Regions from separate parts of the Homo sapiens genome. Here all the other regions are reported to be linked to region 5. Evidence: microRNA targets listed by miRTarBase, many of them from high-throughput screens and not tested one by one. Region 5 holds a microRNA gene; each other region holds the end of a gene's coding sequence. Distances are from middle to middle.
The links. The annotated mature microRNA hsa-miR-3162-3p reads UCCCUACCCCUCCACUCCCCA and lies in region 5 at 1,464-1,484, opposite strand. An mRNA with a match to its seed (bases 2 to 7 or 8) in the 3' UTR can be bound and repressed. Matches are read on the target gene's strand: a 7mer-m8 pairs with bases 2 to 8, a 7mer-A1 pairs with bases 2 to 7 and ends in A, and an 8mer does both.

Region 1 (4,149 bases), 55 Mb from region 5:
ACCCCTGCTCCCCACCATCTGTAGCCCTGAAAGGTCTCGATCCACCTGCTCTCTGGACGGAACTGTGGCTTGAAGAGCCATTCCTGAGGACTTTGGGGCCTTTCTCTTTCTAGACACCCATTTTCTTAATTAGAAAGGGAAAAGACTGTGGCCTTGGGAGAGTTAAGAATAGTAAGACAAGGAGCTGGGCAATCCAGTAGTCAACTAGCTACATGTAGCTATTTAAATTAGTTACAATGAAATAAAATTAGAAAACTGTAGAGCTGCAGTCGCACCAGCCTCATTCATAGCCATGTGTGACTGGTGGCTGCCGTCTTGGGTGGTGCCTTCATTGTCCCAGAAAGTTCTGTTGGAGCAAGCCCAGCTGGAGGAACCCAGCTTCCCTGGCACGCCTGAGGGTGACATGGTGCCCTCACCGCCTTCTGTCTGTCCTCACTTTCTCCTGCCCTGTCCCTCCGCCCTCAGGTGAGAAGCCCTTTGAGTGTAAGCTCTGCCACCAGCGCTCCCGGGACTACTCGGCCATGATCAAGCACCTGAGAACGCACAACGGCGCCTCGCCCTACCAGTGCACCATCTGCACAGAGTACTGCCCCAGCCTCTCCTCCATGCAGAAGCACATGAAGGGCCACAAGCCCGAGGAGATCCCGCCCGACTGGAGGATAGAGAAGACGTACCTCTACCTGTGCTATGTGTGAAGGGAGGCCCGCGGCGGTGGAGCCGAGCGGGGAGCCAGGAAAGAAGAGTTGGAGTGAGATGAAGGAAGGACTATGACAAATAAAAAAGGAAAAGAAAAAAAAAAACAGAAGGAAAAGGAAACCTGGTAGCTTTTTGGCCTTGGATTCTCTCTGGGCTCCAGATGACCTGGATGCCAAGCCACTGCCCCTCCTCTGGGGGCCTCCACCCTCCTCTCCCGGCTGGAGGTTTGCCTGATTTTCTGGGATGGGGTTGGGTATTTTGTTCACTCAAATGGTGGCACATTTTTCTCCTTCCTTCACCCAGACCTTCTTTTATGTGTCCAGAAATGGAGGCTAGAAAGCAGGTGAGAGGTCCTCTGGTCAGAGCCACACGGTCTGTGCCGGCCTTCCTCCACCAAGACCCCCAGGAGATGAAGGGAGGGAGGAGGTGAGCCAGAAGGGCGCTCCCCTGCTGATGGGTCTGGGCTGGGTCACTAGCTGCTCAAAATGGCAGCTCTAGTTTGCTGGCGGCTGACTGGGGAGGAGAAGGGCTCTGTTTCTCTTCCCACCACTCAGCCCACCTGCTGCTTTCCTCTGCTTTGCCACATCTGGGTGTCCCCCGGTGGTCTCTGAGAGCCTCAGGACCCCTGCCCCTCCTCCAGCTCTTTGTTCCCAGCCTCCCCTTGACTCCTGTCCTCCAAGTCCCAGGGGAGTCCCAGCCCCTCAGGGACCTGGCGGTGTCTCCATCCTTCTCCGGTTCCCTAGTGGGATAGCTGCCTCTGACTTCAGGGTCCCTCCTACCCTCAGCCTTCTGAGAACACAAAACAAATCCAATACCCCACCCTAGTCCAGCACCATCGTGAGCAAGATTCCTGCTGCGCTGCTTCCAAAATGGAAAAGCATCACAACTAAATACCTAATATCCTACCAAACAAACCACAGTCCCTACGTAGCCCTACTTCAGTCCCAGGAGAAGGAATCCATGAATGGGCTGAGGTTCCGAGGGTAGGTTGTGGATGTCTTTCTCTAGAGGGGTCCCACACCTGGAAAAGAGGACACCCAGCCCGTGGGATGAGGGAAGCTGGGCAAGGGAGAAAGTTGTTGAGTCACACTGGGGACCCCAGATGTAGTGAGCTCAGCAAGAAAAGCCAGGTCCAGAGAGAGTCGCACAGAATTCCTGACTCACAGCGCCCCTCGGTCCACAGTGGAGAGGAGGAGGAGGAGGAGCAGAAGGAGGGGGAGGAGCTGCAGGAGGAGGAGGATTTGAAAGCGCTTTGGCCTTGTGTTATGTTTTGCTTCTTTTCTGTGTCCCCTGTTAGCACATTGTACTTGAATTACCTCAGTTTTTTGTGACCTCATGAGCTTTCTTAACCTCTGTATCTCTTTTTCGGTTGGGGCTTGGAGGAATGGGGAGGGTGTTCTTTTCTGTTTCTTGTGTAAATTAATAGTTGTTTTTATAGACTTCAGCTGGTCAAGACCCTCCCCGTGCCCCTGGAGACCAGCCTCCCAGCTGGCAGGAACTGTGCAGGAGGAGTTGATACTCAGGATCTGAATGTGAGGGCCGAGGAGGGCGAAGAGCGTGGGTGGGGAGGGGATGTTGCTTTGGGGTCTCATGGTCCCCAGAGGGCACTAGGGAGTCACTTTTGGCTCCGCTGGTGCATGAAGTCACCTGTGGCCACCATCCGTTCCGCCTAAAACACTCTGGAGAGAATCCCACCTTTCTTACAATTTGCTGGGCCATTGAGGTTTGAGGGCCTGTGTTTGGATCCTTGCAACTGTGTGGTCTCACCTCTGTGCGTGCATTCTCATTGCCAGAATTGGTCTATTTTCACGGCTGGTCTTTGGGGAGGGGGGCGGGATCCAGCCTTTGTTTTGTTGTGTTGGGGTGGGGGTGTTGTTTTTCTAAAAGCTACCTCTTATGTTTGTCCAGTTGTTCTTTTGTTCCTTTCCCGCCTCCCATTCTGCTGCTCTTCCTCCCTCTTTTCCCCAACCTCCCCCGACCCTCCTGAATTTTGGAAAGCACATTTGCAATATTCGTGTTTGCTTTGGGACGGACCCTCCGTTTCATCTCATGCTTTATGTGTAAGAGTTTTTTATTATTATTTTTTCTTTCCTTTCTCTCTCTGAGAAAGTTGTGGCTGCGTTTTGATCTTAGGTTTTACAAAGTGGTTTAGGGAAGCGGTTTTGGGGAGAAGGATCACGAGGAATGTAGGGAAGCCGGAGGGATGGGTGCTGCTGCGACGACCCCCCCGTCCCTCGGCCCCAGCCCTCCTGCCCTCCCCTTCAATCTCATCCACCAAATCTGAAGGCCTTAAAATTGTGTGTTGGGAGGATGTGAATTGGGAGGACGGTGTCACTAGACTGTGGATTAGGGATGGTAAAGTAGGGAGGATGCTATTTTGCAACTATAGTAACGACTTAGTGTTTTGGAAAGGAAAAGAAGTTAAACTTGAAATACGTGACTAGAACAGTTGTCATGTTTATAATGTGAAAAGGGTGAAATCATTTGGGGGAGGGGCCGTCTGTAAGAAATCATTATGCACTATGGCTTCCTCCTCTGGTCTGGGAAGAAGCGGGGACTGGCTGGCCCTCAGGGGATCTGTAAATCCCAGAAAACAGTATTTTTAACAGCAAGATGTCATTCAACATTGGTGGGGAAGGAAGAGAAAAAAATCAAACTATTCCATAGAACTAGCTGGCCCCCTCACTCCCATGCCCTTCCCACTCAGCCTGGGCCCCTCCCCGCTCCATTCATAAAAGCTGAGAGGGTTGAGCTAATCTTCACAAATTGTAATATTTTTGTAGTATCTGTTAGTTCCTTCGTCAGTTCTGCAGAACCTTGCCCTTTCCTTTTGTAATGTGAATAGGAAGACAAAAGACAAAAAAAAATCCACCACCACCAAAATATCCCTTTGTACATGTATGTGCGTGTGCGCGTGTGCTTTGTGTGTGTGGTTGTGTGTTAAATCATGCAGTATTGTCGTAATCTGGTGTTGCAGCAATGGATGGTACTAAATCAGCACCTGGATGCCCCACCCAACCCCGTGGGCCCTGCAGACCCCAGTAGGGAGGTATGGGGAGAGCTCAGGGGAGTGTGGTTTCTGAGGGCTACTGTCTGGGGACACCTCTGAACTTACTGTACCTTCCTCTCCCCATGAAGACACCTGAATAGAGTCTAACATGCCTCTTCTCCAACTTCCTACCTACAACAACAGAACAGTTCTAATGTTGCACGGCCTAGTGGCCAGGGGGCAAGCTAAGAGGCTGTCTGGAGGCTTTATATGTGTCTGGAGTTAAGGGGAGAGGAGGAGGGTAGACAGGGGTCTCTCCCCAGGTGGGATCTGAATATCTGTCCTCCCCTCTTCTTCATGCCACCTGACTCCTTCGGCCCCCTGGCTGCCTTTAGCTGTGGTACTGCTGACAACCCTGCTTGCTACTGCCTTATCCAGCACAGTGAAAAACTTCTCCAGCCTGG
Region 2 (4,141 bases), not on the chromosome of region 5:
GGCCATCCTCATCGGCGACAAATCAGAGAATGTGCAGGACCTGCTGCTACTCGACGTGACCCCGTTGTCGCTGGGCATCGAGACAGCTGGCGGTGTCATGACCCCACTCATCAAGAGGAACACCACGATCCCCACCAAGCAGACGCAGACCTTCACCACCTACTCGGACAACCAGAGCAGCGTACTGGTGCAGGTATACGAGGGCGAACGGGCCATGACCAAGGACAATAACCTGCTGGGCAAGTTCGACCTGACCGGGATTCCCCCTGCGCCTCGCGGGGTCCCCCAAATCGAGGTTACCTTCGACATTGACGCCAATGGCATCCTTAACGTTACCGCCGCCGACAAGAGCACCGGTAAGGAAAACAAAATCACCATCACCAATGACAAAGGTCGTCTGAGCAAGGACGACATTGACCGGATGGTGCAGGAGGCGGAGCGGTACAAATCGGAAGATGAGGCGAATCGCGACCGAGTCGCGGCCAAAAACGCCCTGGAGTCCTATACCTACAACATCAAGCAGACGGTGGAAGACGAGAAACTGAGGGGCAAGATTAGCGAGCAGGACAAAAACAAGATCCTCGACAAGTGTCAGGAGGTGATCAACTGGCTCGACCGAAACCAGATGGCAGAGAAAGATGAGTATGAACACAAGCAGAAAGAGCTCGAAAGAGTTTGCAACCCCATCATCAGCAAACTTTACCAAGGTGGTCCTGGCGGCGGCAGCGGCGGCGGCGGTTCAGGAGCCTCCGGGGGACCCACCATCGAAGAAGTGGACTAAGCTTGCACTCAAGTCAGCGTAAACCTCTTTGCCTTTCTCTCTCTCTCTTTTTTTTTGTTTGTTTCTTTGAAATGTCCTTGTGCCAAGTACGAGATCTATTGTTGGAAGTCTTTGGTATATGCAAATGAAAGGAGAGGTGCAACAACTTAGTTTAATTATAAAAGTTCCAAAGTTTGTTTTTTAAAAACATTATTCGAGGTTTCTCTTTAATGCATTTTGCGTGTTTGCTGACTTGAGCATTTTTGATTAGTTCGTGCATGGAGATTTGTTTGAGATGAGAAACCTTAAGTTTGCACACCTGTTCTGTAGAAGCTTGGAAACAGTAAAATATATAGGAGCTTAAATTGTTTATTTTTATGTACTACTTTAAAACTAAACTGAACATTGCAGTAATGTTAAGGACAGGTATACTTTTTGCAAACAAATGCATAAATGCAAATGTAAAGTAAAGCTGAAATTGATCTCAAAGTTACTGTCTTGGAGTTTTCAATTTTCCTTCCTTTATATTTTACCCATATTCGTCTTTTAAGATGTTAGTATGATGTGAAATTTATCTAACCAATCTTGTTTAATTCCCAGATGAGGGTGCTGCCTTGAATTCCAACAACTTAAGGGGAGAAGAATCTGGGTAAACTTCACCCACCCTTAAATACAGAAACCTGACTTGGGGTCTTCCTAGTGTACTCACACTCCTACAACTTAAGTGTCCAAATGAAAATTCACCTGAATATTCCAGGAAAATATGAGCTATATTCTGGGGTTAAATGTAAAATGAGCCTTTAACAAAAGCTGGGCAGAAGTTGTCTTATAATTGCCAAAGGAAATATGGAAACAAATTAATTTTGTGACATACAGGAGCCTGAAACAAGAGACAGCAGGCAAGCTTTCAAGTGACTTAATAGTGAGTATAAATTTAGTCAAACTTGTTTAATTTTCTAGTAAAACAGCTCAACTTCTGAGCTTATGGCAAATTCTAATAACATGTTTCCCGCAGTTAGAATTACTTGGGTAGGGAAACATAATTATTATTATTTTTTTCTGGTTTGGGGATCATAACGTTTTTGCAATACTTGCCTTAAATCACTACGATAGATTTCTTTTTTAAAAGGCAAACTGTACTAGATAGTCTTGTATTTTGTTAATATACAACTTGTCCATTTTCCTCCATATCCAATTTGAGATTGTTATAGATAAGAATATTGCAACCCTTTGGTGATCCACTATCCTGGACTTAATCTTTAAAATTCACATCCTTCAGAGAAAGGAATTCATTTTTATTTTTTAGTGAAATGACATGACTACTCTTTTCTTACTCTCTTTAAGGAGAACTTGAGAGAAATTCAGTAAAACCAATAGGAAAATGCATAGTTAACCTAATGTTTTTACTGCACATAGACGTTTTGATATCTTTCCACATGATGCAGGTTTGCTTCATGCTGCTCATAAGACAATAGTTATGAAAGCTTTATCTTCAATTTAGTAGTGGACCCATCTGTGTCATTCAGAGAGATTAATTTTATGAATAATGGAATGAGTAATAATTTTAAAACTAGCTAAGAAGTTAGCCTAAGAATACTGGCCTTTGGTAATGACCCTTTCATACAAGAGTTGACTCTTAAGTACACATAAGGTGTTTTTTTTTTTTTCCTTTTTAGCAAGCCTCATTTGGGTAGGGGGGAGGAAGATAAATAGCCAACAGTGAAATTGCTTCAACATAAAAACCTTTTTTTTTTTTTAAAGGAAACTGCTTTTTATACTCTGAAAAGCTAAAGATAACTCCAATTTATCAGTGCTGGTGTCACATTGGTGGAAATTTTTCAGCAATGAGCATTTAAGGGTGTTTCATGGACTACAGGCATAAATATGTGACAAACTACTATGGTACTACAAAATCAGGTTAATTGTAGCTTTAGAGTGACGTTTACTGTGAGTTTTACCAAGATAATACCCATTCTGTTACCCTTTTATTAGTCCTTTATTTGTTGAAAGTGTTCATTCCTTGCTCTAACTTCAAAATATAATGGAGTCCTTCTGTAAATGCAGTTTGGTATGACTCATTTTAGACCTCACTTAAGAGATTAGTTTCTAAAGTATCAGAAAATGACCATTGGTAGTTTTTGATCCTACGGCCTGACCTCCGGTAGCTTGCTATAATACTAACATCAATCTGGGCAGATACTTCATTTTCTATTTTGAAAAGTAATTTGTAAAACTCAAATTCTTGAGTTTTACATTCTTGAGCATTCTTGAGAGTGTTTCTTATTTAATTCTCTCTTTTCAAATTTACCAAGATTTGCATATTACCAAGATAAAGCCACCAAAGTAGCCATTCACTTTCCAGGGGTCAGTTGAAACTTGTAACCTGATAACTCCTGGGAACTCCTTAGCAGATGTTAGATCAGCCATAGTCAAATAACAGTGGAAAAAGTACTTGATGTTAGGATGGGGCTAAATTACAGTTTAAGGATTCTCCGACAGGCACTTATCTGAAATTCTTTTTTTTTTTTTTTTTTTGAGACGGAATTTCACTCTTGTTGCCCAGGCTGGAGTGCAATGGCTTGATCTCGGCTCACTTCAACCTCCGCCTCCTGGGTTCAAGCGATTCTCCTGCCTCAGCCTACCGAGTAGCTGGGATTACAGGCATGCACCACCACACCTGGCTAATTTTGTATTTTTAGTAGAGATGGGGTTTCTCCATGTTTGTCAGGCTGGTCTGGAACTCCCGACCTCAGGTGATCCGCCCGCCTTGGCCTCCCCAAGTGCTGGGATTACAGGCGTGAGCCACGCGCCAGCCCACTTACCTGAAATTCTTATCTGAATGTTTGATTAACATAGTTGTCCCTGTTTTGAGGGAACAAATATAGACACCTGTCAAACGAAGACATAACTAGTTGTTTACAGTATTTGAGATGTGTGAAATTTCAAAACAAACTCACTTTAAATTTTTTATAGTATTGATTTGATATGTATAATGAAAATGCATTAAAACTTGTACATTAGGAGATCTTAGTACAATTTACAACTGTTAATTTAACATGTATGTGTAATATTATGTTACCCATTCAATATGTAATGGAGACTTAATGAGTATTTCTTTTTTATGTATAATCTTAAACAGTAATACAACCTGGCTATCTAGATGAAATCAGAAAATCTATTTTTATGATTTTCCAATAGTGGACCTATAACATATTCTTACTTTTAACTGAATGTAGTTTATAAAGGTTGTGTTGTGAGGCATGCTCCTCTTGCTTTTGAACACGATTTAAATTGAAGTTTAAAAATATCTCACATCCGTATGTCTCAACTGTTAAGGGAATATATATGTTTGGATTCAGAAGCAGGAATATTCAATTGTGT
Region 3 (4,149 bases), not on the chromosome of region 5:
AGACTGAGTTTCACTCTTGTTGCCCAGGCTGGGGTGCAATGGTGCAATCTCAGCTCACTGCAACCTCCGCCTCCTGGGTTCAAGTGATTCTCTTACCTCACCTTCCTGAGTAGCTGTGATTACAGGTGCGAACCACCATGCCCAGCTAATTTTTCATATCTTTAGTAGAGACAGGGTTTCTCCATGTTGGTCAGGCTGGTCTTGAACTCCCGACCACAGGTGATCCACCTGCCTCGGCCTCCCAAAGTGCTGGGATTATAGGCGTGAGCCACCGCCCCCTGCTTTAAACATTTTACATAACAAATTTTTCAGTGTTTATTTCTAAAAAGTGATGTTAAAGCCAGGTGTGGTGGTTCATTCCTGTAATCCCAGCACTTTGGGAAGCTGAGGCAGGGTGGGTCGCTTGAGCCCAGGAGTTCATGACCAGCCTGGGCAACATAGCAAGACTCCATCTCTATTAAAAAATACAAGAAAACTAGTTTAAGTTTAGCATAGTGGTGTGTGCCCGTAGTCCCAGCTCTCTGGGAGGCTGAGGTGGGAGGATCACTTGAGCTGGGGAGGTTGAGGCTGTAGTGAGGGAGAAAGCGGGACTCTGTCTCAAACAAACAACCATAATGCAATAATACACAAACCAAATTTACTAAGTATCAAGGAATATCCAGTGTTGAGATTTCTGCTTGTCTGATTTAAAGTTGTGTGTTTTGTTCCGATTTGGTAATTCGGATCCAAAGTCCATACTATCCGATATGTCCTTTGAGCCTCTTAATCTAGAGCAGCGACCGGTTCTCAATGCTGAGCGGTTGGGGATCCCCTGGAAGCCCTGTGAAAGCGATGCTGGGCCCGCAAGCAGGCGGGGTGGGCCTGGAGCTAGGCGTTTCTCCCACATGCCCCGGGACGCTGCTTTGGAACTGTGCCGAGTCCCCTGCATGCCAGGCCTCTCGTTTCCTTGTGGTTTATCTGCTGAAGAGGGCAGGTTGTGAGTCCCACGGGTCTCTACAATGTCAACTTTGCTCATTGCAGCCCTCTGGGGGCTTTGAACTCATGCCTCTGTTGGGCGTCCATCAGCCCATCCGATGCAGGCAGAAGCCATCTGACTGTGCCACCTGGCTGCAGCCCACCATAGCTCCCAGCTGCTTGCTCCAGGCGCTTCTCCCTGATCTCAGCCACTCCAAGGGCACTCACAGGCACCCCTCCCTTTCTCTGTCAGGGCTCACCCCTCGCAGGGCTGACCCTCTACCCTGTGTTCCCACAGCCCCGTGCGCCAACCTGTCACACACATCCTGTGGTTTTACACTTCTGTCACTGACAGGAGCCTGCTGGGGACAGGTGCTGGCTCCACTCCCTCCTCCAGCACCCTGTCTCAGAGTGTACTGAGGTGACGATGGTGATGGCGTGGTCTGTTCTCTGCCTGACAGTACATTAGGTGCCACAGACCTGCCCCACTGACCATGGAGGATGCCCTGGAGGAGGTGAACAAGGAGCTGTGAGCGCCAGCAGGTGGAGCTTGACGTGACGTCTTAACAAAAGGTATCCCGTCCTGTGTACTCAGTGCACACACACGCACACAAACATAGAGCTCATCAGTGTCCAAGTGTGACGTTCCGTGGTGGGGGCAGGTGGTACTGGGGTGATGGACACACACACACACAGTCAGCATCCAGGTGTGACATTCCATGGTGGGGCAGGTGGTGCTGCGGTGAGGGCCCCAGACTCCTCTGAGCCAAATCCCAGCTCAGTGACAGCTCTCCCAGCAGCATGCCCAGCTCTATGACACCACAGGCCAGTGGAAATAGAATTTCAGTGGAGCTGTCCCCACTCACAGCAGGACAGGGGCCACCAGCCTCTGCAGAGCAGCTCCACCCAGGCAGGTCCTGGCATCCCAGTGAGCCAGAGGGAGACAGGGTGGATGGGAGAAGCCCTGCTCGAGGGTAAGGACATGGGACCAGGTCAGCACGCTGGGGACGCCATGTGAGCCCCTGGACACGGCCTCTGACCCCAGGCTGCACAGCTCAAACCAGGACATGTGTCTCCTCACTCAGCCCGTGCACACTTCTGACTTACACATGTGCGGGAGAAAGGTCTTTAAAAAAAGGCTTTATTTGAAGGCAAAACAATGAAATCCACAAGAAATTACTAACAGCACGTGTTTACGTTTTATCCTGAATCATACATTTTAACAATTCACAGCTACAGGAAATCTAGAACAAAATCAAATATTCATCACGTTGGGTTGAAAAGTTGGAAGATTTTGCATCTTATTGAAAAGAATTTTTCAAAAATGTTTCTGTACAAATGAATGGAATTGCACCAGGCTGCCCATGGACACCAGGTGTGGCCGATTCCCAACGGTCACCCACCAGCTTCTGGCAGGAGCAGCTCCCCTCCTGGCCTCCCCTCCCTTCGGGGGTGTGAAATGAAATGATGGAGTGGAAGGCGCTGGCTGGGGTCGGGCTCCATGCTCTGGATGGGACTGGGCCGTCGCACACGCCAGCCGGTGCAGGGTTCTTCCAAGTGCAAAACTCAAGCAGGGGACGCGACGGGCACAGACTCCGAGGCAGCGCTCAACCTGAAGTGTCTTAGGCTGGTTTCCTGTTAGAATCTTGTTTCCCAGATAACAGCAAATGGCTACATTCCAGAAAAAAAATATCAACTTATACAACTAAAATAACTGAACTAAGGGCCAGTACGCCTTCGAAGAATTAGGTTTCAGAATCTCACTGGGCCTCCTCTCAGGTCAGTATTCTTCTTTCTAGACCTAAACCAAGGAGAGTAAAAATGAAAACCCTGCTTCACTTCGCAAGTCAAGTCAAAGTTTTGTGTTTCTGTTTTTCAATCCGCGGGCAGTCATGGCACTGGGCTTCGGCTTTGTCCCTACACAGCCGAGGGGAAGCCAGGTCAGGGCCGGTGGGTGCGGGGAGCTGGAGGAAGGAGCTGGGGTGCCGGCTCTGGCTCAGGCCAACCCTTCCTGCACATGCTCCTCCTGGAGCCTAGGAGGAGGCTTCAATCTGACTTAGGGCAGATGCACATCCATCCCTTCGTGGCTGAAGAATTTACTCGGGCGGAGGGTCTTGTGTTTTTTGCTTCGCTATAAAGGAAAACGAGCCTGGGGCCCTGGTGGCTGCAGCGCCTCCTGGTGTGGTTTGTGGGTGGCACCCGTGCCCTCCACGCCATGGAGCACGGCGTTCCCACTGGGCATGCGCTGGTCTTCCTTCTCTTCCTGTGGCTCTCCACAAGTGGAGACGGTGTAAGAACTGAGCTGTCACTGCAATCTTCCTCTGCCAGTCAGCCAGGAAGGTCCCACAGCCGGCACCGCTGGCCACCGGCGCGGCTCCCGGCATGGGCGCCTACTTACACTCGTCCCTGGCCTTCATGCGGGCGATGAAGGAGTAGCTCTTGTTCCTGCGGTAGTTCTCATAGGGGTCATCCAGAGCCACGCCCACGCCTTTATACTGGTCCCACTTATCCCGGACGTCCCCGCCCTTGATGGGGTCCTGGATCCCTTGCTCCTTCGCACCGAGGCCGCCTGAGCCGCTCCAGCCTGGAAACAGAGACGCAGTCACAACCACAACAAGGCGGAGGCAGATGGGGGTGCACGTGGGGGGCTGAATGTCCAGACAGGCAGTGTAGACATGGGAAATGGGTAGAGAGAACCCGCAGGCCGGCCCTGTCTAGAGGGTCTGGGTGGAGTCAGAACCGGCCTGACTCCATCCATCCCCACATGCACTGAGGAAGAGAAAGCGCTGGTGACTCCCGGGCCCAGCACGCGTGAGGACCCATCCCGCGCCCTCCCCATTCCCTCGCCTTACCCATCTTCACCAGCATCTGATGGCCTTTGTTCTCTTCTCCGAGCCTTGAGTCAGGGATGGGAGGCGCCGAATTAGAACCCAGACCAGCAGAGGAACTAAAATCGAGACAGGTTATTCTTTTTAAGAAGTAACTGAGACATTTATTGGAATGACAGTGATGAGGACCTCACAGCCGCAGCTTGCGTGCATGCTCACTGTCACCAGGTGACACCGTATGCAGATTTTGCGTCTCTACCCGTTTATCCTGTCTCAGCTAGATAAGGGGGCTCCAGACGCTGGCCCCCACCCCACGCTCAGCATTGAGAGCAGGACACCTCCAACCCAGATGGTGGTTAGAAAGCAG
Region 4 (4,149 bases), not on the chromosome of region 5:
CCACTTGAATTTTGAAGAGGATCTTGAGCTCCAGATGAGAATACAGTCCAGCTGATACAATGATTTTAGCTTTATAAGATCCTGAACAGAGAACCCAGCTACATCCTGCCCGAACTTGATTTACAGAACTGTGAGTAATAAATGAGTGATGCTGAAGCCTCAAACATCACTCAAAGTTTATGCTAATTGTTATGGCAGCAACAGAAAACTAAAACTGAATATTTATTTTGCTTCACAAAACTGCAACTATTATTTGTCAAATATTTATTGATGTTAAATCCACATTACACCAGCACAACAATCCAAAGTAGTATGATTGATTGATAGTACTTTTTTTTTTATAAATACAATATAAAGGTGGCAAAATAATGCTAGTTAATCCCAAACCCAGCAAATCAGCAAAAAAAGGTCACATTCAGAAAAATTTGGCAAGTAAGACATAAGTCATAATTCTACAATAGAGATAGGTCCATGAGAGACTGTGTATGGTATCTTAAATTCCATATTAGCAATGCATATAAGTGCGGTCAAAGAAACTTGAACCACACTGCATAGAACATCTGCCACCCGGTGCTCAAGCCTATTAATCACTTAAACCTTGGTTGGTTGGTGTTCTTACAAAGAAGTAGAAAGCTGTACATGTGAAACAGTAATATGAAATATATGGGGTGGTACACAGATATAAAATTATTTTAAAAAATACTACGTATGAATTGAGTAACTGAGCTAAGAGAGGCCACTTATAAATAATGAAAGATACATGTGTTTTGCATAAGGAATACAGTGTTTTCTTTTCATAGCAAAGTACCATTAAAGCCTCATGTTTTATACTACTAGGTCAAATTATTTTTTCTCCTTTTTAAAATTTATCGGTTCCGACTTAAAACCATCAAGTCTGGTCAGAATCAACTCAGTCTAGCTGATGCAAAATCATATGCATTCAAAAAGCAGTCTTTACCGAGATGCCTTTACAAACCTTGGAATCCAGCACCTTCTTAAGGCAAAGTTTCATGGCAGCAGGGAAGTGAACTAATAATTTTCATTTACCACATCTTGGTGTCTTTGAAAAAATACTTTATGGCACAAACCTGTTTTTGTCTCTCCTTATGTCTCCACTTCCTTCAAGTAGACTAGATGCTACAGGCAATTTCTCATTTATGCCACCATGCAGTCTCAATCCATTTTCAACTTGCTCTACATACCTAAAATCTTCCACTACTACACAAACCTCAGACACACTGCAATCTCCACAGCATGTGTGCTCCACAGCATGTGTGCTCCACACTTCCAGCTGGCCCTGGGTTCCTTGACTTGTGAATGGCAGTGTTTTTTTCACCTATGTTTGAAGAAAACCAAAGAAAAGCCTGGCCTTTGCTACCTCTCCTGTGCCTTCTACTTTTATCTAAATGAACACACTATAATCATGCTGGTTGCATTTTCCTTCATTCTCCTCCCTACTCCTTCCAAACCCCTGATTCCTCCAAATACTATATATGCCTTGGTCATTTGGGTGGTTTGGATGCTTTCTGTGGAATGAACTGTAATATATTTCTGCTTTATTCAGAGCACTTTATATTATTTATATTTAAATTAGCCTTTTAATATGGTTTGTAAATAAGTTTCCTACCAAGGTAGCATGAAAACACTACACATAAAGAAAAAAAATGTTAAGAACTAAGGTATTAACCTTGTTAGAAAACTCTTTTGATATTAACATTTAAGGCAAGTAGTTCCTTCCTTATGATTTAATATAAAAACATTTGCAAAGACAAGGCATTTACTTGGATTTCTTTGTCATCTCTTCTTCTTTCATCCTTACATATTGCACTTGGTTCACTGTATCTGTCTGAATACACTGTGCTTCAGAATCATTGTAGTACTGTTTGTGGTACAACTCCCTCATTAAACATTTCACACTATCAGGCTACACAGCACCTATATCTTGTGTTTAAAGGCACTTGTAGATAATACAAATTGTAGTTACCTGTGAACAATTGATTTCCTTTAGTATTTTGGCATTTTGATCACTTTAATCACAGCAATTCCAAAGTTTTAAATTGGACAGTAAATGTGTATTTTCTGTGCAATGTGTATATTTGTATTAGCATTATCTACTTAAACTAAGTTTGGTATATCAAGTAAGAAAAATATTATTTTGGTGTTTTTTTTTTAATTTCTTATAGTCAAAGGTATGTTTCTGCCTTTTACATAATGTGACAAAGGAATATGTTGGTCAAGGCAATGGCTGTTTCAGTGTTTCAGCTTTAACAAGAATGCTGGATTACAGGTCCTCACTTTCTACCAAGGCAGTATTCAGTGTCAGGTGAGATGGGTTGGCCTCAGGTTGGAACGCTGCTTTGATGTCTAGTCCCTGGTCCGAAAGTGCTGCATAGCGACTGGCTGAGGGCCGTACTTTTTTTGGCTTGGTGCTCTGTGACTGCTGATGCCACTGGGCTACAAAGAAAAAGAGTAAATTAAGATTTTTAATCAAGATATACTTGGAAAGCCTTTAGATATTTCAAATAAATACAGAATGTCTAGATAGATGCAAGGCACCTGAACACATCCATGGTAGAAACATGGAAAATTTAGGAACACTTTTGCATTTTACTCACATGTTGCAGATTTACTGTCTATACAGGATAGTGGGAATAAAGCAGCTAGATTACAAAGGTCAAGTGTAGTTTATCTTTTTTTTTTTTAAGTAAACACTGCAGCACAGGGAATCCTTTGGAATAGCTGATAAGCTTCCTAATTCTCATCCCCCCTCTCCTTTTAAAAAATATTTTCTCTAAAATAATTATAGCACTTAGGAATTCTGCTGGATGTGGATGCTTTAACACTAATCAACTGAAAGGAATCGTACAGTAGGGAAGGTTGAGGCCACACATTTCTTGATGACCCTCACATAGTTATTTCAAGAAGAGGCAAAATCTGAAATAAATTCTTAAATAAATTCTTAATTTTTTTCTAGTGTTTTTTTTATGTCAATGGATAACATAATGCTGATTGTACTAGACTGTAAATTCAATAGGAATAATTTTCTTTAAATTTGGGATGCATGTACACAAATATACAAACACAAGTCTACTGCTGGCTGCTTAAGATATATTAATGAGAAAAGCACTAAGCCACAAAAGTACGCATTCCAGGATCAATGGAACACACGTTTAGAGTGCATTAGGACACTGCGATAGAATATAGGAAGAAATGTTAAAAGGCAGTCATTTGCAGAACACAGTAACAAGAACATGTGAAAAACATGGTTATGCCTTTGCCTACTGTTAACTCCTAAGGATGCTTGAGTAAGGAAGCCACAACTAACTAGCCAATGTAAGAGAAATCAACATGCATATTTTGCTAATAATTCAAAGTTCCTGAATGATACTTGGGTATTTGTTCTCCTGGTGTGGTTCACTATTAATGTCGAGAAACTACAAATAGAAAGAGAGAGAGAGCAATATGAATTTTTTTGACAAATAAAACACAATAGTTGTTTATAAAGAGTAATGTGATTTGCTGTCCAGATGTCTAATTTTTCATAATTTAATGAGTAAACGCAATGAAATGAGATGAAGTGGCACTCACTGTAAACGTCCAGCCTGGCAGTACAGGACACAATCCCTGCTTCATTCTTGGCTGACACAGTATACCACCCAGCATCTTCTTTTGTGGCTCCCTGAATGAGCAGGCAGATGTAGCCGTGGTTGTCCTGGTGCATGCTGGAGAAAAGGATAAAGTCATTAGGGTTCTAAATTTTTTAAAAGTGGCTTTGGACATGAAGCATCATTTTTAATTAGATCATTAGAAACAGAATTGTGCAAGTAGCTGATAATAGGGTCATACTTATTCTGTAGAGATTACTAGCTCCATTAAAGTTAATGGGAGAAAGAACAGACGTCAAGAGTTGAATACATCTGTGTGCTTAATTCCTAGTTGAGGATCTGCCTTTACAAAAACCACTGAATAGTCTTTTATCACTAAAGCAAATGAATTCATCTTTTCTTTTAGATAGAATGATAAACACTTTTAAGAAATCACCATTAGATCAAACACCCATAGCTTCCTTCTAAAAGCTTAATCCTACATTGGGTAACGCATGGTTTTTGTCTTTGATTGATTTCATCAAAAATCAAAACATCTATGTGG
Region 5 (4,000 bases):
TATTTGCCTCGAAACTTGCTGGTGATTTTGATTTCCTGACGCAATGTCCAGCCATTTTTGGACTCAGCATGGTGCGCAGCAGCAGGGGGATGATGACTCACCTTGAAGAAATCAGGTTCAAATTAAGACGGCAGAAAGGAGAAGAAAAAGATACTGCCTATAAATTGGTGAGAAACACCAAAATTCACACTTGACGTTTTTACACCCACAACAGTAGGTGAATCCCAGAACCTCCAGGGTCTCCAACGCTGACGTTCTGAAGAAAAAGAATAAAAGCTGGGATGACAGGGACTAGAATTTCTGCAAACATAAGACCCAGGGGATTAACCAAAAAATCATCTCTTTCTTCAGAAAGGAAATGCGTTATGGTTCTGAGGTTCCTTTACCTGTTCACAGAGGGATCGGTACCCATTCTCCTCTAATCGGTCCAGCTCAAAGGTCTCCCCAAGCAGTGGGTTGAATGGCTTACTGGTGCGGAAGACAGTAGTGGAGTAGGAGGACACGGTGAAAGCTGCAACATAACAGAGCTGTTCTAGAGAATTCTCACATTTTGCAGCTCGGTCTAACAGCTCATGGTATTCCAGATCTTCAGTAAGGCGCTGAAGCATGGACAAGGGCTCATTAAAGTTTACCTGTAAGGAGAAGAACAGATATAAAAACTATGCTCACTCATCTATAAGAGACAGTTTAATTTTTTTTGCAGTTTAGGAAATAAATCACTGGGAAAAGAGGGCTTTGCTCAGTAGAGCGGCTCTAATATTTAACCCGCAAACAACCCATTCTCCTTGTCAACTGTTCATGTCTGTGAGTGGCAGAAATCACTGTTTTCATTTCACTAACTGTAAGCTCTTTGAGATGGGAACCATGCCTCTTCTGTTGAGTGCTACATACCCAAGATCCATCAGTGACTGGCCCACAGAAGACTATCATCAAATAGGTGTTGGATGAATAAGTTTTTTAAAAAAGAAATGCAATGTATTTTAGCACAAGTATACCCAGAGAGGAAATCAGGTATTTAAAATTCTTGGAGAATGAAAGAAACAGTAGTAAATTATAAGTACAGCTATATCCTGACTAGTTATAAAAGTTAGTTTCCACCCTGGACAAAACAATTGCTAAATCTCAGTTCAGTTCTGCATCAGGCCAGGATTCTGATTTCTCCTCTGAGGCTGGATAATTGTGTTTCTGGGAGTGAAGTGCTCATGATGGGGGTTGAGAGGGGGCTGTGCATGCTCTTACCTTTCTAATTCTGAAGCCAGCTTAAGGCGACCAAGTACTGGATAAAGCAAGCATGTGTGTGTTTATGTGTGTGTGCCAGGAATTGGGGGCTTCTGTTGGGGGAGATGTTCATTCATTCATTTATTCACTTACTCATTCCACAAATATTTATTGAGTACCCATGTGTGCCAGACCCTATGCTACCCACTGGATAGAGAGAAGTTAACAAGAGAAGCTGACTTTTTTGGGGAGTGGAGGGGTAGGGAGTGAGAAACATTGTTCATGCTCCCCACCCTTCTACTCCCTAAAAAAGTCAGCTTCAAAATTAACTTTGAAATTTTAAATGATTTTACTATGTAAAAATTCACTATAAAACAAGTCAGGTTCCCAAGTTAGTCCATAAAGCTTATTTAATTAACAATATAGATGAACAAGTCTAAATATTATTAGCCTGAGTTCTAAGTCCAGAGAACAAAAGAAGAAAGAAAAAATTCCCTTTTAGTGAATGGTTCTGGCCTTAAGCAACGCTTTACTTAAACAAACAAAAAAAACACAACACTTTTCTTTCTGATGTTCCATCTCTTTTGGCATTTTTGTTCACCCTTCTACCCACCAATCTCTGAGCTACATATTACCCTAATATTTGCTATCCCCCCACCGCCCGCTCAATCATGAAATTAATATCGTATAATTTTTAACTGTAAAAAACTTTGAAAACAAAGTATCAAGGAAAAAATTTTCTTGAAATGAGATCACCACTATTAACATTTTCAGTTTGTTTCTATACATTCATACATTTTTAAAAGTAATAAACTTGGCCACGTGTGGTGGCTCATGCTTACAATCCTAGCACTTTGAGAGGCTGAGGCAAGCGGATTGCTTGTGCTCAGCAGTTTGAGACCAGCCTGGGAAACATGGCAAAACACCATCTCTATAAAAAAAAAACACAAAAATTAGCACGGTGTGGTGGCGTGCACCTGTAGTCTCAGTTACTTGGGAGGCTGAGGTGGGATGATGGCTTGAGCCCAGGAAGCAGAAGTTGCAGTGAGCCAAGATCATGCCACTGCACTCCAGCCTGGGCAACAGAGCGAGACTCTGTCTAAAAATAAATAAATAAATAAATAAATAAATAAATAAATAAATAAATAAATAAATAAAATTCATAAACTAGAGCCTGCTTTTTCTCTGAGAAATATCCCAAATGTTTCTCTGTGAACATTTTCCAGTGAACACAGAGCCACAGAGCCAACAACACTCATCCTTTGAGAAATAGGACCCACCAAAACAGTGTGCCATACCCCAGAGCCCTCTTCCCTACACTGAAAGACAAGCAGTATGATGACACAAATGCACACTGAGGGGTGGCGCGCTGCAAAAGCCATAATCCTCGATTCTTTTTAAAGAGGGCACTTATTAACTACACCCAATAAAATCTGTCCGTGGCAGAATTTAGACAATACGAAGTAACATTTCCATACATTTTGAGGAAAACTGGGGACAGGCAGTGTACTCCACTGGTGGTACTAGACATACCAGCAGTGCATGGGACTAGAATCAGCACATTGCTATCACTGCTTTTCACACACACACAGCCTTGCCCATCAACAACCAGTTTCTCCAAAAGTGCCAAGCTTCTTATAATGGTCATTTTATTACTCAAAAGCCAAACAGGGAAAGAAATGAGTCTGAGTATTTAAAGTAGAAGGAAGCAGGGAGCTATACAGCTGATGAAAAATTAGGCACCCAAAAAAAAAAAAGACAACCCAGAGATTAGCAGCAACAGGAAGCCATAACCATTGGTAGGGTGGAGAGATGGGGAGAAGCAGCAGTATTACTACAGCCTAGAGGTGGGGGTCCAAGAGAGGAGGATCAGGAGAATGTAAAACATCAAGGCAGGGGAGGCCTCTCCAGTGAAAACTAGAGCCACGTAGGTGCGCCAGAGCACCACTCAAGAGGGCATAGAGGGAGAGACTTCCCACGGCTATAACCTCCTACTGGTATCTTGCATTAGTGAAGCCCAGCCAGACTCCAGTAGCCACGGAAGCCTGAAAAAACACTTCCTAGAGGGATTAGTTTTCCTGTGTTACAGCCTAGAGTAGGGGAAGGGTGAGGACTTGATCTGCGGGCAAACAGGTACAGGACTGTACATTCTTAAAGGCAAGATCAATAAGGAACTAATGGTAAAGGAGGACAGAGAAGTCACCTAGACCCAGAAGCTATTTCTTTCTTTTTTTTGAGATGGAGTCTCACTCTGTTGCCCAGGCTGGAGTGCAGTGGCACAATCTTGGCTCACTGCAATCTCCGCCTCCCAGATTCAAGCAATTCTCCTGCCTCAGCCTCCCAAGCAGCTAGGATTACAGACGCGCGCCAACATGCCCGGCTAATTTTTATATTTTTAGAGAGATGTTGGCCAGGCTGGTCTCGAACTCCTGACCTCAAGTGATCCGCCTGCCTCAGCCTCCCAAAGTGCTGGGATTTTTTTACAGGTGTGGGCCACCGCGCATGGCACCAGAAGCTGTTTCTAAGCAGGAACTACATTCCTGAGACTGCAATGACATGCCTTTCCAGTCCACTTTCCCACTACTCCCTTCAAGGCACCTAATACTCCAGACAAGTGGGGTTTCTTTTCAAGCCCCCAATAAACTAATTATTATTTTAGGTTTATCCTAAGGCTACTCATGGCCTTTTCTTATCTGAAGGTCAACCTTTTTTTCTTTTGAGACAGGGTCTTGCTCTCACCCAGGCTGGAGTGCAGTGGTGAGATCATGGCTCACTGCAGCCT

Region 1: the mRNA of ZBTB16 is a reported target of hsa-miR-3162-3p. Seed matches in the 3' UTR shown: 7mer-A1 at 2,883-2,889, 7mer-A1 at 3,057-3,063 and 7mer-A1 at 3,738-3,744.
Region 2: miRTarBase lists HSPA2 as a target of hsa-miR-3162-3p. The part of its 3' UTR that is shown has no 7-base or 8-base seed match.
Region 3: the mRNA of CHERP is a reported target of hsa-miR-3162-3p. Seed matches in the 3' UTR shown: 7mer-A1 at 2,869-2,875.
Region 4: the mRNA of PALLD is a reported target of hsa-miR-3162-3p. Seed matches in the 3' UTR shown: 7mer-A1 at 1,452-1,458.

Annotation. Positions count from the first base shown.
Region 1 is chr11:114,249,861-114,254,009 of GRCh38, forward strand. It overlaps ZBTB16 (zinc finger and BTB domain containing 16), which reads left to right. Exons shown (of 7, transcript NM_006006.6): 7 at 466-4,149. The coding sequence ends at 695. Among named protein-coding and RNA genes, the nearest start is that of NNMT, 44 kb to the right of the region's middle.
Region 2 is chr14:64,541,989-64,546,129 of GRCh38, forward strand. It overlaps HSPA2 (heat shock protein family A (Hsp70) member 2), which reads left to right. Exons shown (of 1, transcript NM_021979.4): 1 at 1-1,249. The coding sequence ends at 781. Among named protein-coding and RNA genes, the nearest start is that of HSPA2, 3.3 kb to the left of the region's middle.
Region 3 is chr19:16,515,815-16,519,963 of GRCh38, forward strand. It overlaps CHERP (calcium homeostasis endoplasmic reticulum protein), which reads right to left. Exons shown (of 17, transcript NM_006387.6): 16 at 3,807-3,901; 17 at 2,080-3,538. The coding sequence ends at 3,345. It overlaps C19orf44 (chromosome 19 open reading frame 44), which reads left to right. Exons shown (of 9, transcript NM_032207.4): 8 at 1,416-1,527. The coding sequence ends at 1,487. Among named protein-coding and RNA genes, the nearest start is that of C19orf44, 21 kb to the left of the region's middle.
Region 4 is chr4:168,924,518-168,928,666 of GRCh38, reverse strand. It overlaps PALLD (palladin, cytoskeletal associated protein), which reads right to left. Exons shown (of 22, transcript NM_001166108.2): 20 at 3,589-3,722; 21 at 3,389-3,434; 22 at 226-2,454. The coding sequence ends at 3,421. It also overlaps a transcript of CBR4 not described here. Among named protein-coding and RNA genes, the nearest start is that of CBR4, 84 kb to the left of the region's middle.
Region 5 is chr11:59,593,624-59,597,623 of GRCh38, forward strand. It overlaps MIR3162 (microRNA 3162), which reads right to left and starts at 1,535; the gene lies at 1,454-1,535. It overlaps OSBP (oxysterol binding protein), which reads right to left. Exons shown (of 14, transcript NM_002556.3): 8 at 387-632; 9 at 1-101.